5 separate regions of the Homo sapiens genome follow, and regions 2, 3, 4 and 5 are each linked to region 1. Evidence: fine-mapped expression QTL. A gene starts in region 1. Each other region holds a variant in brackets. All regions are shown on one strand. Distances are from middle to middle.

Evidence for each region. PIP is the estimated chance that this variant, and not a neighbour inherited with it, causes the effect.
Region 2: its variant is fine-mapped to the expression of TES in whole blood (TOPMed, PIP above 0.99).
Region 3: its variant is fine-mapped to the expression of TES in whole blood (TOPMed, PIP above 0.99).
Region 4: its variant is fine-mapped to the expression of TES in whole blood (TOPMed, PIP 0.95).
Region 5: its variant is fine-mapped to the expression of TES in whole blood (TOPMed, PIP above 0.99).

Annotation. Positions count from the first base shown.
Region 1 is chr7:116,207,440-116,213,631 of GRCh38, forward strand. It overlaps TES (testin LIM domain protein), which reads left to right and starts at 3,100. Exons shown (of 7, transcript NM_015641.4): 1 at 3,100-3,295. The coding sequence starts at 3,269. RefSeq lists silencers at 2,819-2,948, 2,982-3,244, 2,999-3,198, 3,339-3,428 and an enhancer at 3,789-4,028.
Region 2 is chr7:116,243,195-116,249,386 of GRCh38, forward strand. TES (testin LIM domain protein) reads left to right here. Exons shown (of 7, transcript NM_015641.4): 3 at 5,826-6,078. It overlaps LOC124901730 (a long non-coding RNA gene), which reads right to left. Exons shown (of 4, transcript XR_007060485.1): 2 at 648-742. Among named protein-coding and RNA genes, the nearest start is that of TES, 36 kb to the left of the region's middle. The variant C/T (reference allele first, on the strand shown) is at 2,372.
Region 3 is chr7:116,255,773-116,261,964 of GRCh38, forward strand. It overlaps TES (testin LIM domain protein), which reads left to right. Exons shown (of 7, transcript NM_015641.4): 7 at 1,522-3,011. The coding sequence ends at 1,710. It overlaps LOC124901730 (a long non-coding RNA gene), which reads right to left and starts at 1,532. Exons shown (of 4, transcript XR_007060485.1): 1 at 1-1,532. The variant CAAAAT/C (reference allele first, on the strand shown) is at 2,987.
Region 4 is chr7:116,286,944-116,293,135 of GRCh38, forward strand. LOC105375463 (a long non-coding RNA gene) reads left to right here. Exons shown (of 7, transcript XR_001745336.2): 2 at 1,104-1,171; 3 at 2,909-3,107. Among named protein-coding and RNA genes, the nearest start is that of TES, 80 kb to the left of the region's middle. The variant G/A (reference allele first, on the strand shown) is at 3,403.
Region 5 is chr7:116,325,191-116,331,382 of GRCh38, forward strand. The region is part of intron 6 of LOC105375463 (a long non-coding RNA gene); the gene reads left to right. Among named protein-coding and RNA genes, the nearest start is that of TES, 120 kb to the left of the region's middle. RefSeq lists an enhancer at 2,665-2,959. The variant T/C (reference allele first, on the strand shown) is at 2,363.

The DNA.
Region 1 (6,192 bases):
TAGTGCAAGAACGGCCTAATATAACTTGCAATCAAGAGTTTTAACTAAGACACTTATTCATCTTCCAAGACTAAGCCAAGGTTACTCTTTTCTAAAGATTTTACAAATCCCAATACCACCTTCTCCCTGACTCTCACGTGTGCTTCCCTCTACCTGTAACATTTCATTACTCTTACACACCTGCTACTCCCATACTAATCTGTAAACTGCTTAAGAACAAAGGGAATGTCTTATGTATTTTTACATCTCTCCAGTGATGAAGGGTACATAAAAGTTTAACACATTTCCCTCATCGGATATTGTAATTTGATAGCATAGAAACTGAATTTAACCTGAATAAATATTTTGTTTGGCCTATACAGAGAACTTCAGTCTCTCTCTCTCTCTCTCCTCTGTCTCTGTCTCTGTCTGTCTCTCTCTCTCTGTGTGTGCCTGCACACATGTGTAAAATCTAGTATTTTCATTTACTTCTCTAAAGATAAAGATCTTAAGACCATTCCTTAGTATTATCCAGTATAGTATATTGATTTCCTCTCTACTTGATTGAAACAGCAGAGTTGGGCATTTATTTGGCTGATGTGTCCATAAGTTTTGTGGAAAAGTCAAGTCCAACATTGACTAAAGCACTCTGGTAGAAACAAAGGGAGATAAAATTATAAAGTAATATCTTTCCCCACAACTGCACCAAAAATGCACTTTCCAAAGTCACCAATGATCTCCTTTTTGTTAAATCCGAAGGGCATTTGACCCTTTTCTACAATTTGACATTGTTAACTAATTTCTTCTTCAATTTCCTTTCTTGCTTTTAGGGATTTGACTCCTAATTTTTTTCTTACCCTTAATCTAGCCCTTATCTCTTTTATGTGTTTCTCTTGCTCAGCCTTGCTCACTTGGTGTCTTTGATATTCTTCTCTTTTATTTTACTGTCTCCGAGGCTCATCTCACTTCTTGGCCTTTAATTATTTATTTATGTAGGATGTGAACTCCTAAATCAGCATTCAAGATGTATATTTGGATACTCATTTCAATGTCTCAGTCTCAAACTCAATATATTAAAAGTTGTATCCTTTATGTCCACCACCAGCCCCAAAGAATGCACAACTGAACAAAACCCTGACCATCATCCTATATTTTCTCTCTTTCTGAGCTATCCATAGAGGTGATCAAGATAGAAATGTGTGCCATCTTCTATTCATTCCACTGTCATCAACTACATGTACTCATCAAACCATGCCAGTTCTACCTCCTTAATAACTGTAGCTTAACACCTGAATAACTGAACAAAAACTTACAATTTAACTCTCTTAACACTTATCTACCTCAATTTTATTTTTATAATTTATACATAATCTATAATTATTTTTATATAATTGGCACAGTGATAATTCCAGATAAAACTCACTGAATTTCTATTTCCATCCTTGCCAATGATACACACACACAATGTAATGCTGAGAGGGTTGGGAAGGAAGAATGGGAGAAAGGCAGAAGTTGACAGTTAAAAAAAAAAAGTTTCCAGATGGTTTTCTTAGTGTCATCTCTGCAACCTCATCAAATAAGGGTCCAAAATTTATGTTACAACATTTGTTTGATGCCTTATTTAAATTGCTTTACTGGACATTTTCCATCTGTTAAGCTCTCTGAAAGAAACAAAATTGCCTTGTCATAGCTAGACCTCATGATCCTATACACTTACAACGGGCAGACTTTGCAGGGGCCCACACCTTTCAAGGTGGTTTGGGAAAATGACACAGAAAAGTTTTACATCAGCTGAAAAGAAAAATGCATAACTCATTTTGGTAATTTCAGTTTTAATTCTTAATAGGATAAAGGAAACATGCACATTATAAATCAATGCTCTGTGTTAACAAATAATCAAGTAAGCAGAGTTGCAAGTATTGGCTAAAATGAATTTTGGATATTTTTAGCTACCAAATTTCTCGAGGCAAGGCAGACATACATCTGGACCTGAATATCTGCATTATTAGGGAATTTTTGTTTGTTTGTTTTATATTGTTTTGTTATTTTTAAAAGTAGGTGCCAAATTAGGTCACCTGCTGTCTGGGCAATGTTATTTTTTGCCATAACCACAAATTGAAGAAAATTGACTGCTCTTTTTCCTTAGTCAACATGCTGTGCTTCCAGCCCCAAACATCTTTGAGAAGTTGTTTAGATTCATGAGCAATGCCTCTGTCCCCAACAGGCTAAGACATTAGGCAGGTCCCTGCACCTCTGGAGTCCTCAGTTCCCTGCAAAGTGAGGAAGCTAGACTAAGTAATCGTTAGGCTCCCTTCCAGACCGACCAATCTGATGGTATTAGATGCAATTGCTCCTGAATTAGGGCATGAAATGAATTCAGCTTTGGTGCACCAATGTGATGACTCTGCTTCATCAAAGCCTGAGCACGCGATAGGCCTAGCACCATCTCACACAGAGACAAAGGGCAACCCTCTGCTTCCAAAGGAATGACACAACCTGTTTCTGAAGTGATTCACATCATCTTTACTTTTGAACAACCCAATGCTCAGAAAACAATCTAAGAATCTTCGCTGACTTTAGGGATGTAAGATACGGTTTCTTGACAGTATTTGGGATTGTGGAAAAAAGCAATTGAGGAAAGGGCATCTCCACAACGCAATATTGAATTTAGTGCCCAAGGTCCATCACAGGAATCCCTAACGATCCCTACAATCTCTCTCTCTCTCTTTTTTTTCTCTCTTTACCCTGAAAATAAACTGAGAAGTTAGTATTGGGATAACTATTCCCCTTGACCCAAATAAAAAGTCCTGGGCAAACACAGGTACAAATTGCCAAATGGAAAAAGTTCTTCTCCATCTTCAGCTAGAGGGAGGCTGGGGATCCCAGCTCTTTAGAAGCCGGCCCGTGGACGCCCAGAGAATCCCTTCGGAGACCAGGTCAGGGTCACTGAGCTTGCCCAGCAGGGCGCCGCCTCGGACGCCGCCCCGCCTCTCACCTTGCCAGCGCCGCGCTCGGGCCGCGAAGGTGCGTGCGGCGCTCGGTGATTGGCGGCGGCCCGGAGCTGCCCGGCTGCCATTGGCTGCCCGGCCCCCTTTGTTCCCGGGTCCGGGCCGCAGGCCCGCTGCGGCGGACTGGGCGGCGGAAGTTCGACGGCGCCGGGCGAGTGGCTGTTGAGCGGCGCCGCGGGAGTTCCGCAGGTTTCCCGTGTTCGCAGCGGAGCCGGAGGCCAGCTGAACCCGGCCGTGGGATCCCGGATAGGAGGAGGAGGGGACCCATAGGACGCGTTAACATGGACCTGGAAAACAAAGTGAAGAAGGTAGGGGGGCGCTCGTGGCGGGCGGCGGCTGCTTCACCTGCGCGGGTCGCGCGGCGCGCGGCGGCCGGAGGTGCCGAGGTGGGTGGGGCTCGCGGGCCCCCCGGTGTGAGCCCGGCTCTGGGTCTGCGGTGCCCCGGGCCCAGGGACCTGGCCCCCTGGGTAGAGGAGGTGCTCGGCGGCCCCGCCAGCTCCCCACACTCGGGAGCGACAGAATTGGAAGCGCGAGCGAGGGCGGGCGCGGGACTCTTCTCTCCAGTCTCACGGAATCCCAGTGGTTGTAGGTGTTGGAAACTTTACTTAAGATGTTTCAGCTCTGCCTGTGCCTCCTCAAAAGGAAAGGACGAGCTTAGGGCGAGTGCGGGCGAGACCGTGACACTTCCTGGCTCAGGAAGTTGAATTTCATTAAGCCTTTGTGGTTTGGGGCTCTGCTGTGCTTTGACAGCTCTGATCTCCTCCCTTCCGGCTGGGCTGTCTGGGGCGCTCTAAAATGAGTGTTGATTTAATGCACTGCCTTCGCACCCGTGCTGGTGATAACTTCTAATGTGATTTTTTTTTCGGTCATTCATTACTTGTCTACCGACCGAGGCAGTGCCTCCCTCTTAGGGAATTATCTGTCAAAGAGCGCATTCTCCTTGTTTGGCAGGTAGTCCCAAAGGGCGGTTGTCACCAGCGTCTCAGCGCAGGGAGACATTTTCAGCTTGGCTGCTGCCTCGCAGGCACTGGAACCGACGGCCCTACCTGAGCCACTCCCGGGTTATGCGGAGCCTGGTGTCGCCTGGGAGAAAAGGGTGGGGACCAGACTATGACTCAGAAGGAATGCTGATGTCACATTCGAGTGAATTGCCCTGTGCGAAAGTTCTCCTCGTTCCAGGGGATTTGCTCATGTTTTACTTTGTGGTAAATTTAAGCTAGCTGTCCCTTATCAAATAGAGAAGTTTTGCAGAGAGAGGAAGGGAAAAATACAGAAAACAGTTTTTGTTTTTCTCATACTCATGGTTCCTAATATTTTATCTTCTAAACACAAAGTTTTTGACTTGAGCATTAATTCTATTTTATGCCCAGAACTGGATTTTTGAAAATGGATACAAAATATTGTGTTAGGACTGCAGAGTTTTCGGTTAGGAAGCTATTGACCAATAAAAACTCGAAATGAGAAAACAGTTTTTTTCATTCCTTGCGACTAAAATTCTCAGGCACTCAAAAAGGTATCCAAGAACAGAAAAACATAAATTGTTAATGGTAGCGTGATTGCATTCTATTCTCTTCCCATTTGGTTTCTTTCTTTTTTTCTTTTAAATAACTGTAATATTTTTGGTTAATCTTGCTTGTCATGGGGGAAAAGCGGGGAAAGCATTTTGCCCGCTTAGCTTTCTGTTGATGAATACTACTCTCATTTAGTTTTCAAGTAGGTAAGAGCTACTTAATTTAGTACTTGTCTAAAACTTGGGGGGTCTTGTCCTTGCTTTTAAGTATTTATTTGAAGACAACTTTGCAAAAGTAAACATATTTTGGGCTGCCGAGGATGAACAGGTGAAGCACAGGATTTTTAGGGTAATGACACTATTCTGTATGATACTATAAAATGGCTGATACATGTAATTATACATTAATCAAAATCCATAGAATGTAGAACACCAAGAGTAAACCCTAATGTAAACTATGTATGTTGGGGATAATGATGTGTCAATGTGTTTCATCACTTGTAACAAATGTACTGCACTGATACGGGTTGTTGGTAGTCCGGGAGGCTGCTGGAGACAGGAAGGCATGGGGGAGGTACATGGGAACTTCGAATTTTCTGCTCAATTTTGCTGTGAAGCTAAAAAATGCTTTAAAAATAAAGTCTGTTTAATAGGGGGAGAAAAATCAAAGACATTTTTGAAACTTTTTGAGACAAGGAGTAATTCTGAGGGAAGAAGTTCAAACTTAAAAATTGTATATGCTTGCAAAGGAAAAATCCAGACGTTGTTTATAAACAATTTCCTTAGAGTTTGAAAATGTGGATTATGATAAATAATGCCCTTGACATATGGTGTAATTTTCCTCGTTTATCCCCCACTTTACTTTTAAAAGTTATATTTTCAACCAAGAATCTTAACTTTCTCTAATCCTCCTCTTCTCCGCCTCTACCACCCCAGAAAGAATTCCATAAATTAAAGGTTTTAGAGAGAATCCCATGATATAACAAATCCCTGTTTCACTACGTTGTCTTCACTGATGATTCTTAGAATCCTCAACTGGTAAATTGGAAGCTATTAAAAAACCGCAGAGATGTCCCGTATGACTCCAATTTGTGAGTCCCTTAATAGGCTTGATAGTCTAACAAAAAGTTTCCCAGTACAAAATTTGGAAATCTCAGGAATGTATTTCACAATCTTAGCCATACTCTCAAAAAGAAATTTATGTTCCTTTTAGCAATTGTTTTCTAACACGTCCAAAGAAGGAAATATTACAAGACTATCTGATTTACCAGCAGAGTCCTCACCCTATTTTGGTACCTAGTTTTCAAGTCTCCTTTCTTTTTGACTCAGTTATTCAAGAAAATTTATAGTTTGAATGTACCTTGAGAAAAGGAAGATTAAAAGTTGGAACAAAGATACAACCATTTAAATACAACTAATATGACTTCTGTTTTAAGATGTATGACATTTTTTCCTTCTAAAACTTTTACATTGTTGATTTCATGAGGAATTTCTTCCAGACAGATGAAAAGCATCATTGTTCCACATTAACATTTCATGTAAAAAGAATTAAGGAGGACTGTCTTTATTAAACAGTGATTGAGATAGATGATACTATTATAAAATTCTTGGTTTGTAAAAGGAAAGCTCGTCCACATCAGTTGTACAAATTGGGATTAATTACCAGTTAAAACCCACCATCACAAAGACAAGGGG
Region 2 (6,192 bases), 36 kb after region 1:
CAACATGCATTCTTAGCCTAATTGTATCTAATGTTAATCCATGTTTATATAGACTGAACAATGTAAGTATCTTTAGAATGTGTTTTACAACACTCAGATCGCCACTCTTATTGTTATGTTGTCGTTGCCATGTATATTGCTTCCAGCTTAAATTTTTAACACCACTCCCTACTCCTCTGTTTTTCTCTGTCACCTTTTCCAGCTTCTTTTCCTCTACTAGACTCTTTCTTGAGTCCTTACTTTTTCCCTCTACATTTTTGCCAACAGGCACAGATGATCTCTTTAACTCATATTCATTATATATTGTTCCCTGACCACCAAATTTATATTTCCTACCAGGCTACAGTTTTTAACATGAGAGTTATAGATCCTACACTCTGTGATATCTTTACCTTGTCTCACAGGCATATCAAATTTATCAGTGGTTTCATTTTGGAGACTTCCATCAACCTTCCCCACTCCATACTGCAAAACTGTTCATCTTTTGAATATACTATCTTAATAAATTATATTCATTCTACTAATTTACTCATCCCAGAAACTTGGTTTTATTTTTCAAGAGACTGAGTGTATTAGTCTGCTCTCAGTTAGTCAAGACATACCCAAGACTGGGTAATTTATAAAGGAAAGAGCTTTAATTGACTCACAGTTCAGCATGGCTGGGAAGTCCTCAGGAAACTTACAATTGTGGCAAAAGAGGAAGCAAACACATCCTTCTTCACATGGTGGCAGCAAGAAGTGCCTAGCAAAAGGGAGAAAAGCCCCTTATAAAACCATTAGCTCTCATGAGAACTCACTCACCATCACGAGAACAGCATGAGGGTAACAGGCCCCATGATTCAGTTACCTCCCACCATGTCCCTCCCACAACACGTGGGGATTATGGGAAATACAATTCAAGATGAGATTTGGGTGGGGACACAGCCAAACCATATCATTCTGCCCCAGCCCCTCCCAAATCTCATGTCCTCACATTTCAAAACACAATTATGCCCTTCCAACAGTCCCCCAAAGTCTTAACTCACTCCAGCATTAACTCAAAAGTCCAAGTCCAAAGTCTCATCTGAGACCAGGCAAGTCCCTTCTGCCTGTGAGCCAGTAAAATTAAAAGCAAGTTAGTTACTTCCTAGATACAATGAGGGTACAGGCATTGGGTAAATACAGCCATTCCAAATGGGAGAAATTGGCCAAAAGAAAGGGGCTACAGGCCCTATGGGAGATCAAAATCCAATAGGGCAGTCATTAAACGTTAAAATTCCAAAATGTCCTTTGACTTCATGTCTCACATCCAGGGTGTGCTAATGCAAAAAAGGTGGGTTCCCATGGCCTTGGGCAACTCCGCCCCTGTGGCTTTGCAAGGTACAGTCCCACTCCCAGCTGCTTTCATTGGCTGGCATTGAGTGCCTGCAGCTGTCCTTGGATCTCCCATTCTGGGGTCTGGAGGATGGTGGCCCTCTTCTCACAGCTCCACTAGGCAGTGCCCTTGTGGGGACTCTGTGTGGGGGCTCCAACCCCACATTTCCCTTCCACACTACCCTAGCAGTGGTTCTCCATGAGGGCTCTGCCCCTGCAATAAACTTCTGCTTGGACATTCAGGCATTTTCATACATCCTCTGAAATCTAGGCAGAGGTTCCCAAACATCAGTTGTTGTCTTCTGCATACCTGCAGGACCAACACCGTATGGAAGCTGCCAAGGCTTGGGGCTTGCACCCTCTGAAGCAATGGGCCAAGCTATACCTTGGCCCCTTTTAGCCACCACTGGAGCTGAAGAAGCTGGGATGCAGGGCAGCATGTCCCAAGGCTGCACAGAGCAAGGGATCCCTGGGCGTGGTCCACGACAGCATTTTTCCCTCCTAGGCCTCCAGGCCTGTGATGGGAGGGGCTGCTGTGAAGCTCTCTGACATGCCCTGGAGACATTTTCTCCATTGTCTTGGTGATTAACATCCGGGCACCTTGTTACTTATGCAAATTTCTGCAGCGGGCTTGAATCCCTCCCCAGAAAATAACTTTTTCTTTTGTATCGCATTGTCAGGCTGCAAATTTTTCAAACTTTTATCCTCCGTCACCTCTTGAATGCTTTGCTGCTTAAAAATTTCTTCCACCAGACAACCTAAATCATCTCTCTCAAGTTCAAAGTTTTGCCCCTGCCTACAGATTCTAGGGCAGGGGCAAAATGCCACCAGTCTCTTTGAATAGCCAGAGTGGCCTTTACATCAGCTCCCAACAAGTTCCTCATCTCTATCTGAGACCACCTCAGCCTGGACTTCATTGTCCATATCACTATCAGCATTTTGGTAAAACTCATTCAACAAGTCTCTAGGAAGTTCGAAACTTTCCCACATCTTCCTGTCTTCTGAGCCCTCCAAGTCT[C/T]TAGGAATTTCCAAACTTTCTCACATCAACCTGTCTTCTTAGCCCTCCAGACTGTTCTAACCTCTAGCTATTACCCAGTTCCAAAATCACTTCCACATTTTCAGGTATCCTTATGGCAGCACCACACCCTTTAAAGTACCAGTTTACTGTATTTATTAGTCTATTCTCATGGTGCTAATAAAGACATACCTGAGACTGAGTAATTTATTTATAAAGGAAAGAGATTTAATTGACTTACAGTTCAGCATGGCTGAGGAGGCCTCAGGAAACTTACAAACATGGTGGAACGCAAAGCAAACATGTTCTTTACATTGTGGCAGCAAGGAGAAGTGCCGAGCAAAAGGGGAAAAAGTCCCTTATAAAACCATCAGCTCTCAAGAGAACTCAATCACTATCATGAGAATAGCATGAGGGTAACAGCCCTCATGATTCAATTACCTCCTACCACATCTCTCCCACAACACATGGGGATTATGGGAACTACGATTCAAGATGAAATTTGGGTGGGGTCACAGCCAAACCATATCACTGAGCCTTCCCTTTGCCATCACTATGTCCAAATAAACCACTAAGTTTAGTCAGTTTTTTGTTCAAGGAGACCTCAAATTTCTTCCTTTCTTTTCATCTCCACTGTTGAATACTCTAATCCAAGCCATAGCATATTTTACCTGGACCACAACAATAACCCTCCAAGATGTAAATTCCATTTGTGAAGTAGTGGCAGCATCCTGTTATTTAGAACCATGCCATTGCAAACTGGATGCATAATTAACATGTTAGCTTGTCTCCCTATTGCCAGTTATGTTTCACCCCTAATCCATTTACCACATGGCAGATATTGTGATATTTAAAATTACAGATCTGATCATTTTATTCCATTACCAAAAAGCCTTTGCTGCTTCCTGATTGCTCTTATGATGAAGCCCAAATTCCTTAATGTGTTCTATGAGCCCCTGCATGACTTCATGCCTACCTCTCCAGTCTTATCACCCTCCTATTGACTCATCTTCCTACAGTCATACCAACCTCCCCTGGTTATGACACCTAAGGGGACAATTTCTTTCCTAATTCAGGACCACTGAAGGTATTCCTCTTTATACCCAATACTAGAGACTTTTCTTTCCTTTTCTCCTCCCCAGATACACACCCACATACACAGTTTACACCTATGTTTCATACATCGTCCAGATCTCAACCTAAATATCATCTTCTTATGGGGTCCCTTCTTCACGAGTTTGAAGTCCAAATTACACCCTCTCAAGGGACCCTATACTTTCTTTCCTATCACAAATGAAATTTTCTCTGTGTATGTGTGTGTGTGTGATTATTTAATGTCTATCTCCCACCAGAGAGTAAGTTCTAGAAATCAGAGACTAGGCCCCTTTTTTTTTTTTTTTTTTTTAAGCACTATGTCCTAGTGTCAAGTACATTGCTTGGCACATGGGCACTCGTGTATGTTGCATGAATGAATGAATGTCTGTGTGCCAGACCAGAGTGAAGAAGAGAACATTGTCCTTGAACTATAAGAAACACCATGATGGCAGAGAGCACATGGTAGGTGGCAATAAGTGTTTGAAGAAATAAAATAAGGGAAGGAAAGAGAAAGGAAAAACAAAGGGAAGGAAATGGAGGGCAAAAGAAATTGAGAAAAAAATGAGAAAGGCTGTAAACCTAAATCTAGGATTATAATCTTTGATGGGAAAAGTTTCCCTGTCTCTCACTAAAAAAACAAACAAACAAGAAACCTTGGATAATAGCTATAAAATGTTAACATGCAATAAAGTACAAAGCCTCTTGCTTAAATAAGGAAACATATAATTTTTGTGGTTTTATTTAATTCATTTCTTTTTATTATTTATTTTATTCACTATTGGGTGACAGCATAAGGAATATCAGATGGGGTTACACTCAGACATGTCCCTTTAAGTGTGCACTTTTTAATCAGTCTTTTTTTTTAATGGTACAATTGAAGATGTCTATTATTGGGGCCATCACCACTTCTTTCAGTGAATTCATTGAAAAAATCTTGGTTGGTTTTGATAAAAATCAAATGAATAATTGCTTCTCGTTATCATATCAGAAATGCAGATGCACGTTTGGTTGACAAAACACACTGAATTTGTTAAAATACTTACTTAGAAAATTCAGTTGAAACGTTATGGTACCATCTAAATCACAAAACTTAATTCAGTAATTTCCAAAAATACATTATTAGTGACTGATAATTCTGCTGCTTTCCTCTTTTTTTCACCTTCCATTTTAGGTTCAGAATGTACCTGTGCAGTGCAGGTGTTTTACATGGGTAAATTGCATGTTACTGAGGCTTGGGTTATAAATGATCCCATCACCCAGGTAGTGACCATAGTACCTGAGAGTTAGCTTTTCAAACGTTTCTCCCTCTCACCCTCCCCACTCTAATATTCCCTAGTGTCTGTTAGTTCCATCTTTGTGTCCATGTGTACTCAATATTTAGCTCCCACTTATAAGTGAGAATATGTGGTATTTGGTTTTCCTTTCCTGTATTAATTCACTTAAGATAATGACTTCCAGCTGCATTCATTTTGCTTCAAAGGACATGATTTCATTCTTTTTTTATGGCTGCATAGTATTCTATGGTGAATATGTTCCACATTTTCTTTATCCAGTCTACCATTGATGGGCGTCTAGGTTGATTCCACCATGTCTTTTCTATTGTGAATACTACTGTGATAAACATACGGGTGCATTGTCCTTTTGGTGGAACAATGCATTTTCCTTTGGGATTGCTGGGTTGAATGATAGTTCTAAGTTCTTTGAGAAATCTCCAAACTGCTTTCCACAGTGGCTGAACTAATTTACATTCTCACCAACAGTGTATAAGCATTCCCTTTTCTCCGCAACATCTGTTATTTTTTGACTTTTTAGTAATAGCTATTCCGACTGATGGAAGATGGCATCTCATCATCGTTTTGATTTGCATTCCTTAATGATTAGTGATATTGAGCATGTTTTCATATATTTTTTGGCCATATGTATATCTTCTTTTGAGAAATATCTGTTCATGTCCTTTGCCCATTTTTTAATGGGGTTGTCTTTTGCTTGTTGAATTGTTCCTTATAGATTCTGAATATTAGACCTTTGTCAGTTGCAGGATTTGCAAATATTTTCTTCCATTCTATAGGTTGTCTGTTTGTCCTGTTGCCAGTTTCTTTTGCTTTGTAGAAGCTCTTCAGTTTAATTGGGTCCCTCTTTCAATTTTTACAACCTAGCTTTTAAAAGCCTTATCAAGCAAAGTCGTGTTTTGTTTCCTTCTTGCTTAAATATATGGATACTTATTCTCCCTCCTAAAAAAGGACTTGCCTTTGCATACCATGATATAGAATAGGCCTAAAAGTATTTTATGAACTATAAATGTATGAACATAAATATCAATTAGGTACAATTAATCATTTTCTACTTATTTTCAAAATTATAGAAAAATATGTCGTAACTGCAAGTGTGGCCAAGAAGAGCATGATGTCCTCTTGAGCAATGAAGAGGATCGAAAAGTGGGAAAACTTTTTGAAGACACCAAGTATACCACTCTGATTGCAAAACTAAAGTCAGATGGAATTCCCATGTATAAACGCAATGTTATGATATTGACGAATCCAGTTGCTGCCAAGAAGAATGTCTCCATCAATACAGTTACCTATGAGTGGGCTCCTCCTGTCCAGAATCAAGCATTGGTAAATGATATGGAACAGAGAGTTTCTTTATTGAAGTTCCTGGAGTATTTATTTGGGGCAGTTTCTTTGATGACCTAATCAACTTCACACATCCCAGATCTGTTATTCTTCCGG
Region 3 (6,192 bases), 48 kb after region 1:
AGGAAATCATAAATGTTTAAGGAGAGGGATATCCTAATTACCCTGATTTGATCACTACACTATGTATACATGTATTGAAACATCACATAGTACACCCATAAATATGTACAATTATGTGTTGATCATAAATTTTAAAATGGAAAGATTAATATGAAATGCAGAAAATAAGACATTCTAAATGCATAATAAAGCTATAAAAATATATACAAAAAGCAGTTGCTTGCATGGTGCAGCTGCACATTAGAAATGTGCTTGTAATTGAAACGTTCATTTTTATAGTATTCAGGAATAGTGTGTTGATCAAAGAATTTTCATTGTATCTCAGGGAAGACTGGGTTGACCTAACTTATAGATTACAGAGCTATAATCTCTGTAATCAGAAGCAATGTAACAAAAATATGCAGGTCTGAAATGGACATATATAACCAGGCCTCACTTCACTGCCTAAACCAATTACCCAGTGAGTAGCAGCCACATTTTGAAGTCTTTTCAAGTAAGGAGGCTCAAGCTGAATGACCTCCACTCACCTGTTCCCACCCCTTATCCCTCAGTAATTCCTGACAATCACATTACGAGACCAAGGGTGCTTAAGATTAGTCACTGTGATACCAGACAGTCTTGCTGGCTTCTTCACTTGTTATGAAATATTTAAAACAAAAACTTTAAGACAGCCATATTCATTCAGAACATGTATAAACTATAAGGCATGGACTATCCAGTGTTTCAGAGGTCCGAACTGGTTTTCTGTTTTCTGCTATAACATAGGTTATTTATTCATTTTCCTCATGTGCATGTTTGAATAAGAAGAAAATTTTGTGGTGTAAATGTATGTATGTTTGTGTATGTATATACATGTTTGTATGTCATGTATATATACATAACACATACTGAATGGTACAGGGATTGTAAGTATTAATGTTCTACAATATTAGATTACACATAAATTATGACTGATCTTATGACAGAATAGAAGCCAATTAACTACAAGTTATATTTTTAGTGCAAATTCATTTTTCTCAAACACTGTCAGTATTTTTAATTGAGTCCTTAATTACTTTGAACATGATTTTAATTTACTACTGTCTAGAAATTAGTGGTGTTAATAATCTCATGTGTCATAGGTAAGACAGGTAAAATTACCACTTCAAAGCTTTAATGAACAAGGAAAAATCATAAACTTCTGTGTAATTACAAATGTGCAATCTAATAAAATACATCAGAACTAAGCACACTGCTTTGGAACTTCCCATCAAGACTTTCTGCCTTGAATGCCATGAAGTTATCTTACATGCATCAAATCACCTGTTTGGCCTTCACTCGTTATTTCTCAGGCTGCTCAGAATATTGACCTCCATTAACAGTTGGCCAAAAAGGTTAGCTAGAAGGCCACCCTCCATTGTGTATTTCTGAGGTTGTCATTATGAGTTTTAATTTATCATCTAAAGAAATATGTCCTAAGATGAAAATGTTACCATTACAGCTTGATCTCTCACCCTCTTCTCTTGTATTATTTCTTAATAGGTGTGTCAAGGATGCCACAATGCCATCGACCCAGAAGTGCAGCGGGTGACCTATAACAATTTCAGCTGGCATGCATCCACAGAGTGCTTTCTGTGCTCTTGCTGCAGCAAATGCCTCATTGGGCAGAAGTTCATGCCAGTAGAAGGGATGGTTTTCTGTTCAGTGGAATGTAAGAAGAGGATGTCTTAGGAGGAGGGCACCCAGAAGTATCGAGCCATAGCTATCCAAAGTGGTCTGCATTTCTACTGTAAAATGCAATTTGAAAAAAATAAAACGCAAAAAAAGAAACTGTAAAGGAAACCAAGAGATTTTGTTTAATTTTTTTGGCCATTTTTTCTTCATCAATTTTTTTTCGGTCTCAACTTTTAAACTTGGTTTAAGCATTTGATTTGTAAAACAGTAAATAATTGTATCTTTCCATAGCTTTTCAAATGTGAAATCATTTTTGGAAGCTTGGATCTCATTAAACTTCATGTCTCTATTCCATTTGTGCCACACACTTAAAAGTTAGTGTACTGAATGGAAAGATGAGCATTCCTAGTTCTACACTTCTTTTTTCCCCCTCATGTGTAAAATGAAAAGAAAACTAAATTTGCCCTAATACCAAGGCGCTACGTTTATTGCCTCGTCTTATTCACTGACCTTTGTAATGATACACAGTGAATTCTTTTTGACAAAGAGAAATGCAGTGTAGTATGCAGAGCTGCTGTTTTAATGCCTATGCATTTACTCTTTCCTGATTTAGGCAGAGGTGGCATTTTCTTTATTGCATTTCTCTATTTTTTTAATGTACCCTACCTTCAGTATTCTCTTTGTAAGTTGGTGACTTGCATCTGTGGCCTTGAATATTTTATTATCACATGTGGCATAACAGTATCCACACTTTTTAGTTCTTTATTTTTTTTTTTTTATTTTGAGCAATTCTCCTGCCTCAGCCTCCCAAATAGCTGGGATTACAGGTGCATGCCACCACACCCAGCTAATTTTTGTATTTTTAGTAGAGACAGGTTTTCACCATGTTAGCCAGGCTGGTCTCAAACTCCTGACCTCAGATGATCCGCCTGCCTTGGCCTCCCAAAGTGCTGGGATTACAGGTGTGGGAGCCACCATGCCTGACCCACACACTTTTTACTTGTATAGATGATTTTTGGCTTGGACATAAAAGCCAAGCCACCCATTTGCTTTTAATCCAAAGAACATGTATAGTTTTTGTACCCAGAGACTATGATTTATATTGATTGCACTTGCCTGCCATGATTTAGATAAGATTTTTTTTGCATGGTTTTTATTCTTTCCTAATGGATCCTGTTTTATAATACTTCCAAGCCTGTCCATGGATATATCAAATGTCTTCACTTGTATATTTTCATGGCTAGGTATTTCTAATGTTTATTCTTCCCTGTGTACTTCTACACATAGCTATGCACTATGAAAATTAAATGGAATGAATGATATGTATATTACT[CAAAAT/C]AAAGTTTCTTTCACTTTAATAATCATTGTATCTTTTTATTCATATCCTTTTTTGAGTGAAAAATGCTTCTGCAACTAAGCATGTGTTACAGCAGGGGGCGATGTCTCCAAGGATAAAAATTACCCAAACGAAAATAAAAGTCTGCCTCTGACAGGACAGCACAGAATCTAGATGTTTCATTATGGAGAAAAGATAAGGTTTATGAAACTTTCAAATCAGGACTTTTAAGTTTGGTCATGCAAGAGTTTTTTTCTTTTTCAAAGAAAGGGAAAGTAATTTTAATTAAAATTTGGGAGAGCTTATTTTCTATTCAGTTGGATCTAACAAGCCTTTTATACTTGGGTTTCAACTCTGGTTTCTTTATATGTAAAAAATATTAAAAGAAGAATTTTTTCATGGAAACTTATCGTGAGACAGAAAGCAAATGGGGAATAGTGGTAGACTCATGCTTCCTAATGTTAGCAGGCCATAATACTTTCTCCCTCAGTCTACAATTATTTCTGTCATAGTGGGAGTTGCAGTTTTCTCTGATACATACCCAGAATAACTTGACTTTTTTTTTTTTCCAGCTCCTGTTTGGCCAATAGTACTTCTCTTTACATTCCACCTCTCCACTCCCCACCACCACACACACATGCACATGTGCATACCAAGCATACAAATTTACTCCTTCTGCACTATGCCTTCAACCATGCAAAAGTAACTTTTGGAGCTTGGATACGTGTCACCTTATCTAAAGTAATCTAATTCTGCATATAATTTTAGAAGCTAATATCACAAGTATCATTACTGTCTATAAAGATCGCTTTATGGTTGCTCATATCTTTATCTTAAATGGCAACAAATATATTTTCCACAGCATATTGTCCACAAAGTTGTACAACTTAACTTTTCCCAGACATGGCTAAGTGAGAATAAACTGAAACAGAACCCATCTGCTACTAACACGGCCAATCCCTTAGGAAATCTGGATTGCTCTTGAGACATACTAGCCTTCATATTTGTTGCATGGTACCTACATATCTCCCTTTCCTCCTTCCTTTTTTTTTTTTTTTTTTTTTTTGAGGTGGGGGGGGCGGCAAATGAGTTAGGGATTATTCTTTCTTTTCATTGACTAGCTGAAACTTCTATTACTGAAGTCTTCAAGCATAGATTTCCAAATTTGACTTTGAAGTATTTCAGCCCAATTTCACCAAAGGCAAGGGATTCATCACTGATTCATTCTCAAGGAATTTCCAACACATAGCGTTTAAGCTTATACAACTTCACCGTAGTTACCAAAGAGACACCAACACCCAAGATCAGTATTCAGCCTTTGTCTTGAGATGCCTTGGCATATCTGAACTTGTCTTCTGGGTATTCACTTAATTCTTTGGAAAACTTGGGTTTCCGTCAATGTCTCTATAAAAAGGCACTTTGCCACAATTTCTCACTCATCTGCCCCTTCTTGACCTCTGCTGATTTAAATGCTTGCCGACAACTTTGATGACTGTAATGAATGCCCACATGTATGCAAAGGACCCACTGTGCTGGTTTATGTGTATGTGCTTTGACCACACAAAACACATTCTGGCTCGATTAATAGATTAATAGGATCTTTTTTCATATATTTAGTTGATGCTTAAATAGCTTTGGCTAATTATTTTGTTCTTTCACAGAGAACTTGTCATTGTAGCTTTTATTTGATCTGATAATACAACTTGAAGCACTCAAAATAAGATGCCATTAACTTTTTATACTTGTTTTGAATGGCATCTTATGATGACATTTACGAAGGCTGCTATCAATTTTTTTTCAGTGATACTCCTCACCAGGGTATCTTGCCCCTCAGCCAATAATAAAACCAACTTGTATCCTGTTATCTTTACGAGAGTCAGACATTAGTGAATACAGAGACTAATATTACAGTTGATTTCTCCATAAATATTGATGGACTGTGAAGACATCATGGTATATAGTTCCAGGGAGAGCTGGATTTAGGAATCTAGACAAGACACTTTTTGCCACATCCCATTGATTCTCCTCCTCTCCCATTACAGTAGGATGGAGGACAACATTGTTGGATTTGAAGAGTAAGAAATACCGGGCCCAAGTGTTGAATGGATATAATGTATTGAAGTCATCAAGAATAACCACAGGGAAAATGGTGGAGAGAAGAGTAAGCCAGAGCTAAAGTTATAAAAGTATGTGGAGAAGTATTGTGGCATCTGATAGAAGATGGAAACTCAGGGTGGAGATGGGTGGTAAAGTCTAAGGCCATGTGCTACACCTCAAAGAGCTGTGATTGTTAGGAAACAAACAGCCTTTAATGGGAAAAACAGTAGACGGTGAAGAAGACACCTACCCCACAGGGATTGTGCCAGACACTACTTGAAATACTACAGAAGAAATAGGCTTTGGGGATAACTAGGTGTCAGTTGGAGAAGATGATGAGGAGTTTGAGAGTACAAAGGAGTCTGCAGTTCACAGAAGTTGGATGTCAGTGGGTACAGAGATAAGAGTATAGGAGGAGATAGGGCCAGATTCGAAGTACAAAGCAGAATGGGTATCAGGTTTCCAGTAAGGCTGAAAAATCTAGAGGCCAGGGGTAATAAACAGGGTCGAGAGGCAGGCTAAGGTTAGTTCTGGTAGTTTCCTAGGGAAAAGTGGGTTATCAGGGATGCTTTTGGCTGTAAGTAACTAAAAAACTAAGAGTGGTTTTAAGACAAGATAGAGGCTAACCCAAATTTGGCTCAGAACAAGTTTATTTTTATCTCTCTATTCTTCCACCCTCTATATGTTGTTGCCTTCTATTCTCATTTGTCCCTTCATTCAAGCAACACTCCCTCATATGACATCATCCAAAATAATAAAGAAGAGAAATGGCAAAAGCGTATTTTACCTCTAGACAACGAAGAAGATCTTTCCCAGGGGCCCCCAGCTGATTCACCTGCCTTTCCACTTCATTGGCTACAAATATGTCACCTGCTCATCCTCATCAAAGGCAAAGGGAAACAGAGTTGCTATGGTTGACTTATCCAAGCACAATTCATACCATGAGGTCTGGGCACATGCTGCCCAGAACAAAATTATTTTGCTAATGTATGATTGTTTAGATTCAGCATTGTTTAGATAACTAAAAGGTATGTTTGTAAATAAGTATGAATCTAAAGTTTTGGGTTTCTGTTGACTTGTGAGATGAGTCAGGAACATCATTTGGG
Region 4 (6,192 bases), 80 kb after region 1:
AACAATGAATGAATAACAAAACAGATTTATATAAGCCAGGTTGTATAAGTGTTATAGACAAAAATGAAATAAGTGTTTAGCCAGGGTTCTCTAGAGGGACAGAACTAATAGGATAGATGTATATATGAGGGGGAGTTTATTAAAGATTATTGACTCACACAATCACAAGGCCCCACAATAGGCCGTCTGCAGGCTGAGGAACAAGGAAGCCAGTCCGAGTCCCAAAACCTCAAAAGTAAGGAAGTGGACAGTTCAGCCTTCAGTCTGTGGCTGAAGGCCCGAGAGACTGTGGCAAACCACTGGTGTCGGTTCAAGAGGCCAAGAGCTGGAAAACTTGGAGTCTGATGTTTGAGGGCAGGAAGCATCCAGCACAGGAGGAGGATGAAGGCTAGAAGACTCAGCAAGTCTGCTCCTTCCAAGTTCTTCTGCCTGCTTTATTCTAACCATGCTGGCAGCTGATTAGATGGTGCCCACTCAGATTAAAGGTGGGTCTGCCTCTCCCAATCCACTGACTCAAATGTTAGTCTCTGGTAACACCCTCACAGACACACCCAGGAACAATACTTTGCTTCCTTCAGTCTAATTAAGCTGACACTCAATATTAACCATCACAGTAAGCATATCAGAGACTATAGGGTCTGCTGTTTGGGACAGGGTGTTCTGAAAGGACCTCTGGTAAGGTGACTTTTGAGCATAGACCTGAAGAAAATGGAGGAATGAGCCCTGTACATTGTCAGGGAAGAACTGCTCTGGCAGAGGAAATACAGATGGAAAGGGCCTGCACTGGAAAAGTGATCGGCATGTTAGAGGCACAGTGAGGAGGCCAACACAACCGGTGAGGAGTGAATCAGGAGAATAATAGGGGATGAAGTCACAGTATTGGGACCCAGGTCATAGAGAGCCCTGGAAGGCATTTTAAGGACTTGGACTTTGAGGAAAATGAGAAACCATTGGCCAGTTTGGGGTACATGGATGATATTTAACCAGAAGATTCTTTTTCCTCTCTATCAAGTCATCACTTTCCACATTTTATGGAAAGAAGTTTTATCTTTTCTTGTTAAGCTATTGGTGAATTTTTAACTTTGGGGTTTTGTTTCGGATAGGTATTGGGAGAAGGAGAGGCTGTCAACCCATGCCACTATGCTATCTCTAATTCTGCCATCCAGACCGAGTAAGTTTTATTTCCACTGTATTCTGCCGTCCATGGCTTGCAGGAAGGGGTTCACCCCTACTCACCCTACAGGCCACTTCCATGAAGAGCTGTGCCCAGAGGCTCCCTGGGCCCAGCACAACAAGCACATTCACGTATCCCCAGCCTCAAATGAGCCTCATTTACAGTCCAGCAGTGTGTGCCTGCACGGTAGTTCTTTATGTTTCCTTTTCAATAAATATATGACTCATACCAGTATTGTCCTTTGTTTAGCTTTCATCTTTCTCAGAGTTTGAAGTGTTTGTAAGAAATAGTTGTAGATTTATTTTTAAAGCCTTGCTACCTTAAATCAAGAATTTTTTTTTTTTTTTTTTTTTGAGACGGAGTCTTGCTCTGTCGCCCAGGCTGGAGGGCAGTGGTGCCATCTCGGCTCACTGCAAGCACCGCCTCCTGGGTTCATGCCATTCTCCTGCCTCAGCCTCTGAGGTAGCTGGGACCACAGGTGCCTGCCACCACGCCCAGCTAATTTTTTTTTTTTTTATATTTTTAGTAGAGACGGGGTTTCACCATGTTAGCCAGGCTGGTCTCAATCTGCTGACCTTGTGATCCACCCACCTCAGCCTCCCAAAGGGCTGGGATTACAGGCGTGAGCCACCGCGCCTGGCCAAATCAGGAAATTTTAAAAGCATAACATGCCACTGTATTTCTTTTTCTTATGAAAAGCAATAATGCTAAATTTACAGGCATAATGTTGTATTGGCATTAAAGATGGCTATCAATCCATTAAAATAATCAATATGTTATTTCTTGACCTCCTGGCCTCATGATCCACCTGCCTCGGCCTCCCAAAGTGCTGGGATTACAGGCGTGAGCCACCGTGCCCAGCCAAAATAATCAATATGTTATTTCTGATGCTGAATGTATACACAAAAGTTTTCAACTATCTGAAAAAGAGGATCTTCTGATAAATATTCATCATATCCTAATTTTTAAAATTAGAGTACTTCAAATTTAGATGTTATGTTAAAAAAAAAAAACTCCAAATTCTCACACGTGAAACCTGATCTTGGTTCTGATGTTTACTTTTTTTGAAGTAAGTAGAAATAATTGAGTACAGAAGAAACAATTAGCTAGATTTGTTAAAATCTGGTTAAATATTGTTTTAATTATCACAGAAGATGTAAAGAACATGTAATTTTATGGATTATTTATAGAATAGTGGGCAAAACCAATTAGGTATTAAGAAGTGAACCTTGAATTTATGCATTTTTGTAACAGAACTTCTAGCTGTACTAAATACAAACTGAATTTTTGGAGTTAAAAAACTCTTTCATTACGCTTAAGATATATTATTTATCATATTAATAAGCTTCTCACATCATACATTGTGTATTGTTATTGTGGTTATTTTTGTCAACAATTTTTATCAAATGAGTTCTAATTTTTGGTGGAGAAATTTTGGCAACTACACAAAGAATGTACCAAATATCACTTCTGCAAACTACACATATGAACTTTTCAAAATCCATAAATTACTCTTCTCTGGTTTGGCTGAAGTTAGAGAAGCATTGTTAAATAATATTTACTGAACACTTTTTCTAAAAAAAATTGTGTGTTTTCATAATGTGTTTTGATTTAAAAGAAAGTTGTTATTATTAGTGAAAACATTTTTTGTAATGAGCCAATAAAGTCCTCAAAATTAAAATGAATCATACTATGGAAGACCTACATTTGATACACTTTTTTTTCTCTGAGCAGGCAAACGTACTTAAGACCTTTGTGTAAGATCAGAAAATCATAAGACAGCATTAAAAAGTACTATACAGGAGGAGATGGAACAAGATGGCCAAATAGAAGCCTCCAGCAATCATCTCCCCGAAAGGAATTGAACAACTATCAAAACAAAATTGAACAACTATCTAAACAAAAAAGTACCTTCATAAAAAACAAAAATCAGGTGAGTGATCACAGTACCTGCTTTTAACATCATTTTTTAAAATACTTTAAGTTCTAGGGTACATGTGCACAACGTGCAGGTTTGTTACTTATGCATACATGTGCCATGTTGGTGTGCTGCACCCATTAACTCGACTTTTACATTAGGTATATCTCCTAATGCTATTCCCTCCCCCCTCCCCCCACCCCACAACAGGCCCTGGTGTGTGATGTTCCCCACCCTGCATCCAAGTGTTCTCATTATTCAATTCCCACCTATGAGTGAGAACATGCGGTGTTTGGTTTTTTGTCCTTGC[G/A]ATAGTTTGCTGAGAATGATGGTTTCCAGCTTCATCCATGTCCCTACAAAGGACATGAAATCATCCTTTTTTATGGCTGCATAGTATTCCATGGCATATATGTGCCACATTTTCTTAATCCAGTCTATCATTGTTGGACATTTGGGTTGGTTCCAAGTCTTTGCTATTGTGAATAGTGCCGCAATAAACATACGTGTGCATGTGTCTTCATAGTAGCATGATTTATAATCCTTTGGGTATATACCCAGTAATGGGACGGCTGGGTCAAATGGTATTTCTAGTTCTAGATCCTTGAGGAATAGCCACACTGTCTTCCCACAATGGTTGAACTAGTTTACAGTCCCACCAACAGTGTAAAAGTGTTCCTATTTCTCCACATCATATTAAGGAAAGAGGCACTGAAGAGGATAGGAAAGGCAGACTTGAATTGCCTACACCACTCTTCCCCCATCCCCAGACAGCAGCCCCTCATGATGCAGAGAGAGAATCTGTATGCTTGAGGGTGGGACAGTGCAGTGACTGTGGAATTTTGCATTGGAATTCAGTGCTGCTCTGTCACAGCAGAAAGCAACAAAGGCCAGAACTCAGCCAGTACCCATAGAGGGAGCATTTCAACCAACCCTAGCTAGAGGGAAATAGCCCATCCCAGTGACAGAACTTGAGTTTTGGCAAGTCTTGCCAACACAGGCTAAAGTGCTCTGGGGTTCTAAATAAACTTGAAATGAATGGCAGTCCAGGCCACAAGGACTGCAATTTCTGGGCAACTCCTGGTGCTGTGCTGGGCTTGAAACCAATGGGCTTGGGGTGCACACAACTTAGTGAGACATCAGCTGGGGTGGCCTAAGGAGTTCTTGTGTCACCCTTCCCAAACTCTAGGCAGTGAAGCTTGCAACTTCAGGAGAGAACCATTCCTTCCACTTGAGAGGAGAAGGGAGAGTAAAGAGTACTTTGTCTTACAACTTGGATACCACCTTAGCCACAGCAGGATAGAGCACAGAGCAGAGTCCCAGGCTCCCATTCCAGGCTCTAGCTCCCAGATGACATTTCTATACATACCCTGGGTCAGAGGAGAACCCATCACCTTGAAGGGAAGGACCTAGTTCTGGCAAGATTTATCACCTGCTGACTAAGGAACCCTTGGTCCCTGAACAATCAGCAGTGGTAGCCAGGCAGTACTTACCATGGGTTTGGGGTGAGATTCAGAGCCACGACCCAGTACATTCCCAGCTTTTGTGACTATGAGGAGAAACTCTTCTACTTGAAGAAAAGAGAGGGCAGAATAAACAAGACTTTGTCTTGTAGTTTGGGCACCAGCTCAGCCACAGTGGCGTAGAGCAGCAAGCATATCCTTGTGGTCCCTGATTCCAGGCCTTGGCTCTTAGGTGACATATCTGAACCTGCCATTGGCCAGAGGGGAGCTGACTGCCCTGAAGCAAGAGTCCCAGGCCTGGCAGCATTTACCATAACTGACTGAAGAGTGCTTGGATCTTGAGTGAACATGAGCAGTAGCAAGGCAGTTCTCACTGTGGACCTAGGGCAGTGGTAGCCATGAGGAGAGACTCCTCTGCTTGTGGAAAGAGAAGAGAAGAGTGGGAAGAATTTTGTCTTGTGGCTTGGGTGCCAGCTCAGCCACAGTAGAATAGAGCACCAGGTATATTTCTAAGGTTTCCAACTCCAGGCCCTGGCTGCTAGACAGAATCTCTGGACTTGCACAGGGCCAGGGGGAACTCACCACCCTGAGAAGGACACAGTCTGTCTGGCTTTGCCACTTACTGATTTTAGAGCCCTAGAGCCTTGAGCAAACATAGGTGGTAGCCAGGCAGTTTCACAGCTGACTCTGAGTGAAACCCAATGCTGTGCCGGCTTCAGGTCTGAAGCACTGTCCTAGTGGTGGTGGGTACAGGGTTGTTTGTGTCACCCCTCCTCTAGTTCCAAGAAACTCAGCACACACAGAGAGAGAGAGAGAGGGAGAGAGAGAGAGAGGGAGAGAGAGAGACTCCATTTGTTTGGGAGAAAGTAAGGGAGGAGAACAAGAGTCTCTGTCAGGTAATCCAGAGAATTATTTTGGATTTTATTCTAGACTATCAAGGCAATACCTCTATGAGTCTGCAAGAGCCACAGCATTACTGGGCTTGGGGTGGCTCCTAATGCAGATATGGCTACAGTAACCAAAAACTTAGATTACAACACTGAAGTTTCTTCAAATGCCTGAAAAGCCTTTCCAAGAAGGACAGGTACAAACAAGCCAAGACTGCAAAAACTGCAATAAATACCTTATCCTAACTCTTCAATGCCCAGACACTGACAAACTTCAAGGAAAATGACCTCACCAAATGAACTAAATAAGGCACAGGGGTCAATCCTGGGGACACAGAGATACGTGACCTTTCAGACAGAGAATTCAAAATAGCTGTTTTGAAGAAATGCAACAAAATTCAAGTTAAAACAGAGAAAGAATTCAGAATCCTATCAGATAAATCTAATAAACAGATTGAAATAATTTAAAAGAATCAAGCAGAAGTTCTGGAGTTGAAAAATACAAGTGACATACTGAAGAATACATCGAAGTCTCTTAACAAAATTGATTAAGCAGAAGAAAAAATTAGTGAACCTGAAGACAAGCTATTTAAAAATACACAATCAAAGGAGACAAAAGAAACAAGAATTTTAAAAAAGAAGCATGCACAACACCTAGAAAATAGCCTCAAATGGCAAACCTAAGAGTTATTGGCCTTAAAGAGGAGGTGGAGAGAGAAAGATAGGGGTAAAATGTTTATTCAAAGGGATAAT
Region 5 (6,192 bases), 120 kb after region 1:
ACACAGTGATTCCTCCGATAGATCTGGATAAAGAAAACAGAAAATCTTCTGGAAAGGATTAATCATTCTAGATGCCACTAGGAACATTTGTGATTCATGGGAAGAGGTAAAAATATTAACATGAATGGGAGTTTAGACGAAGTTGATTCGAATCCCCACGGAAAACTAACTTAGAAGGGTTCAAGACTTCAGAGGAGGGAGTAACTGCAGCTGTGGTAGAAACAGCAAGAAACTACAATTAAAAGTGAAGCCTGAACATGTGACTGAATTGCTGCAATCTCATGATAAAACTTGAATAGATTGGGAATCTCTTCTTACGGACGAGCAAAGTGTTTTCTTGAGATCAAATCTATTCCTGGTGAAGATGCTATGAACAGTGTTGAAATGACAACAAAAGATTTAGACCATTGCATAAACTTAGTTGTTAAAGTAGCAGCAGGATTTCAGACAATTTCCTCCCATTTTGAAAGAAGTTCTACTGTGAGTATAATGCCATCAAACGGCATCACGTGCTACAGAGAAATTCTTTGTGAAAGGAAGATTCAATTGATACAGTAAACTTCAGTGCTGTCTTACTTTAAGTAATTGTCACAGCCACCCAACCTTCAGCAGCCCCCACCCTGGTTAGCTGCCATCAACACTGAGGCAAGTCCCTCTACCAGCAAAAAGAATATGACTCACTGAAGATTCAGATGATCACGAGCATTTTTCAGTAATAAACAATTTTTACACTAAGATATGTCCATGTTTTTTAAGACATAATGCTATTTTACACTGAACAGACTACAGTATAAACATATAACTTTTATACGCACTGGGAAATCAAAAACGTGTGTGGCTCACTTTATTGTGGTAGTCTGGAACAGAACTCACAACATCTCCAAGGTATGCCTGTATTTCATTTAGGTGAAGATATGAAAGCGGCAGTTGAATATACAAATCTGTAATTCATGGGACTGCTCAGTGTTGGAGATCTAATTTGGGTTCATCCATCTATAGGTATATTTAAAAAGCTGAGGCCTGAATAAAGATACCTAGGGAACACAGGTAGAGAGAGCACACAAAGCCTGACCTGCAGCATTCCAGTGTTTAGAGGTCAAGAAATAAGATAGAGTAGTGGACTAGTGGCCAAGTAATAAACTGGGTCAAAGATGAAGAATGAAGAATGCCAGTGGATTTTGCCATGTGGGGGTTTTAAGGGACCTCGATAAGAGAGCTTTTAGTACAGTTGTTAGGACAAGACAGGCCTAGAGTTTAGTCTTAAAAGGGAACAGAGAAATGACGTGGTTGTTGGAGGAGACCATAGAGACAAAGAAGGTTCATTTATTCATTTTTATGTTTAAGACAGGAGATAACTGTCCTATGTTGTATGATGATGGAAATGGCCCAGTAGAGACAGAAACATTGATGGTTTCTATTTTTTCCATCTTGTTTGGTTTGGTCTTTCAGAATTTAATACCTAATGAATGACTTTTTTTAACTTTTATTTTAGTTTCAGGGATACATGTGCAGGTTGGTTCTATAGATAAATTGCATGTTGCGGGGGTTTGGTGTACATATTATTTTGTCACCCAGGTAAAAGCATAGTACCCGATATGCAGTTTTTCAATCTTCACCCTTCACCCACCCTCCACGCTCAAGCAGGCCCCAGTGTCTATTGTTCTCTTCTTTGTATCCATGTGTACTCAATCTTTAGCTCCCAATTATAAGTAAGAACATGCAGTGTTTGGTTTTCTGTTTCTGCATTAATTCATTTATGATAATGGCCTCCAGCTCCATCCATGTTGCTGCAAAGGACATGTTCTCATTATTTTTTTATGACTGCGTAGTATTTCATGGTGTATATGTACCACATTTTCTTTATCCAGTCTACTGTTGATGGGCATTTAGGTTGATTTCATGTCTTTGCTATTGTGAATAGTGCTGCAACGAACATACGTGTGCATGTCACTTTATGATAGAATGATTTATATTCCTTTGGGTGTATACGCAGTAATGAGACTGCTGGGTCAAGTGGTAATTCTTCTTTGAGTTCTTTAAGAAATCTCCAGACTGCTTTCCACAATGGCTGAACTAACTTACATTCCAACCAGCAGTGTATAAGCGTCCCTTTCCTCCGCAGCCTCGCCAGCATCTGTTATTTTTTGACTTTTTAATAATGGCCTGAATGACACATTTGAATTAATTAGTTTGACAAGAGTTTTAAAATATCAAACACACTTTCCCACAGTGTTCATTTTGTTTATATTTGCTTATCTCAGTAAATTGTTAACATGTAGAAATGAAAGCTTAAATGTATAATGAGCCATATCTCTGCATTTATTCAAAGACTTTAGGGGTCAAATTTGCTTATTAAACTGTG[T/C]GACAACCAGTTCTGTTTTTGAAATGTTTAAAATTTATCTTAATGTCCACTTTAGGTTCTAAATAATTGAGATAGGCTATCTATAAACCCTGCATTCACCAGATAATGGCCTCAGTATATCCTGCACTTGGCCAGGAATTGACATTCAGTCTATAATTATTTACTTACGGAAGATTTATGTTTTATAAGTAAAAACAGAGAGTATTGGTTTTAGAAATATATGATGTAGTTAAGAAAATCCAAGAAAAGCATTAATTAATAATAGAAAAAATCACTCACAGTTATTGAAAGCATCCCGCATGATGGGCGCTGTGCTGCAATCTACGTTCATGCTCTCATTTACTCCCCTCAGCAATTCTCTCTGGTGGTGGCCACTATGATTCTATTTTACAGACCAGGAAGTTGAGTCATTACAGGGGGCAAGTGACTTGCTGAACGGTACACAGCTGGGAAGTGGTGTGGCTGGAATTTGAGGTCATGCTTTCCATAGTCATAGTACACGACCGCTCAAGCAGGCTAGCATATGGATGGAAGGAAGAGAATGCTTCCTTTTCATACCAATGTCTTTATGTATGAAAAGCAAAGTTATGTTGATCGTATTAGGAATCAGGGTGAGTAATTTCTATTTTACCATGGAAATGATGAATTAACAAATTATTTTAATGTAGCAAAATTCCTCTACTGAAAGAATTAGACAAAACTCCACCATATATTCACTGTGCATTTGGAAGGAGGAGGCCAGAAACTGAAAACTCCAAAAGCAATTTTATGAGGCAGACAGAATTCCTTTGGGACTTCATATTAAGCTATTTTCAGTAGGGAGTACAAATATTTTGTTGAAAATGCTAAGAAACGCCTTTAAAACATTTCCTAATAGGGTCATAGTGGCTTGTTGTAAAGAACAGAAACCAATTTGCCCCATGCCTGACATATTGTTCAGTATTTACTATTAATTTTGTTCTAACAAAAGCCTACCTCAGATCAATAAATATAAATGTTGTAAAAAATAAATTTGATAAAGATTACATTTTTTCATTTGATGTAAAAGTACTTTTCACACTTTTTGGTAATTCATTAGGATGGTGATTTCATTTTAAGATTAGCTTTCCCTTTCCTTTTGTGTTACCTGTATTGAAAACTGGCTATTACCATATGTACTTCTTTACATTTTCTGCAGCATGTAATTAAGAGCTAAACTTATATATTTGTTGCCCTTTTTCACCTAATGAAGATAATTCCAAGGTTTGTAGAGAGAAATAAGAAACCATTCAAACCACTTGTGTTATTTTGTTTGTTGCTTTGTTTTTGAGACGGAGTCTCACTCTGTCACCCAGGCTGGAGAATAGTGGCGCAACCTTGGCTCACTGCAACCACTGCCTCCCAGGTTCAAGCGATTCTCCTGCCTCAGCCTCCTAAGTAGCTGGGACTTCAGGAGCCCACTGTCACACCTAGCTAATTTTTGTATTTTTAGTAGAGACAGAGTTTCACCATGTTGGCCAGGCTGGTCTCGAACTCCCGACCTTAGGTGATCTGCCCGCCTCGGCCTCCCAAAGTGCTGGGATTACAGGCATGAGCCACCACACCCAGCCACATTCAAACCACTTCTGAGGACTCTCCTATACTCTGGGTACTTAACTATGAAGTCTAAAGTTGTGGGATGTATAAACCAGCTATAAAGCTAGACAGGCTGACTCTAAAGCAAAGGGTAACATTCTCCACCTTCTGTTTTCTCTGGCTGTCCTTCCCTCTGGAGTGTCCTCCTTATACCTATAGGGATGTCTAGTGTCTGCTATCACAATTTGCTAATTGAATAGGCTCGATATCAGTCATTTCCACCTTAGTGAAAATTAAAACTGCTGTGTATTCTCTCCCTCCCTAAAGTAATTTTATTTTAGGCCTTGTTTATAATGTGACATGGGAAGCATTTCCTCTCCCACCTCCTTTAAATATATTTTGAATATCAGGGATTAAGTAGAAAAGATATTAGTGAAGATAGACTAGCCTTGAGAAGCTTAGTTATGCACCTCAGATAACACAAATCCGTGCATAGCTAGTCCCAAAGTAAAGCACAATAAATTGCATGAAATAATCAATGAATCTGAGGTGCTTGAATAATAGAGTCTTAGAACTGGTTGGTACCTAAGGATTTGTTGTACTCTTCCCTCCCACCCAATGCAGTAATCTTCTCTGTAAGAGCAGTAACAGATGGTCAAGAACTTGTACCACTATTTTGGTTTTTCTTATTAAAATGGCTAGATTTCAGAACTTCTTGGCAAGCTGCTATTCAAATGCAGAAATGCATCTGCTTAGAAACTCAAAAATAAACATGTTTTCCAAAGGAATCAAGTATGTTCTATAAAATCCTGGCCTGTTCATAGGATGTGGTAAGCATGAATTTCATTACAAGTTAATTCTACCATGATGGTAGTGAGCTTCTTTGTTCCAAACTAAGAAGTGTTGAGTGTGATTGGTGATGGTTGGAACTAAGGGGAGGGAGCTGAGAACTGACAGATGTATGCTCAAATCCTGGATGTGTCCTGGCATCAAATTTCAGAAAGTTAAGAAATAATGTTTTGTAAGGCAGTTTCATCTCATAATTTTAAGTTACTGTATTCATTCTACATGAAATCCATCATTAAACTCAGATACCATATCCAGTAGAGTAAATCAGGACCAAATACAGCCTGTAATACGCAGAGCCAGTGAGGCTGGGCAGCTTCTGTCTGAGTTCCAGACTCACTGGCACTCAGCTAAGGATTCCAGACACTCAAACTTAGCAAGAAATAGGACAAGAAGCATGGAGCATGACTTAATATTAGTCTGTGTGCATTTCTATGTGGAGCAATACATTTGCAATGCTTCTTAAAATGTAATGATGCCACAGTTTTATTTTTACATACAGTTATTAACTTTCAAATATATTCAGCAGATGATATGACTGCACATATTGGGATTTGGTATATATAACCTTTCAGTCCTTTTGACAGAGAGTGATAACATTGATAATCTCCATATGGCTTAATGTTTCTTTGCTCTCCCTCCTTTCGGAAATTCTCTGTGCCTCGTTAAATGGAGAAGATTCCATTAATATTCAATGATACATGAACAAGCAATTAAAATAATTTCTATTCTAATCTGGAAATAGAAAGTATTTTCTATGTAGCATTATACAAATGCTATATTTATGAGCTATGTGGGTACTATAGGCAGAGATCAGTTTCAAAAATGAGCAATTACACTGTGCCACATTATAGACTGATTTGAACCACATAAATTTCATGTTTAAGACTCACTTTGATTATGTTGCGTATTTTACCATTTTAGAGAGGTTTCCTTGTGATCCTAATTCTAACTCAAAATAACCTGTTTTCACTTTTTGCCTATCCTTCCAACAATCTCTTCCCAACAAACCACCACCACCACCACCAAAAAAAAAAAAAAAAAAAAAAAAAAAAGCTTCACAAAGGTTTTTGGAATTCAAATGGGTCTTACAAAACTTTTGGATAATTCAAGTGTAAACTAATCAGAAACACATGGGATTGAATTCCCTTTGAGATTTACAATCAGGGTGAAAGGACTTGGCAAACTGTAATGGTTTAACAACAAAAGAAATCAAGAATTTTCAGCCTCACAAGCCTCTACATTTCCTCTCAATTCATTTATATTTAAAAGGGAAGCATATGCTAGAGGCTAGAGTTTGGAAAACTGCCTGGTTATCTGATCTAGTGTTCTGCATCAGCACCTCATCCACCACCCATCACCTTAAGTTTATCTTCTCAACCTGCATGATTTTGAGTGAAAGGGGAGCCAGAAGTGAGATGTATGATCAT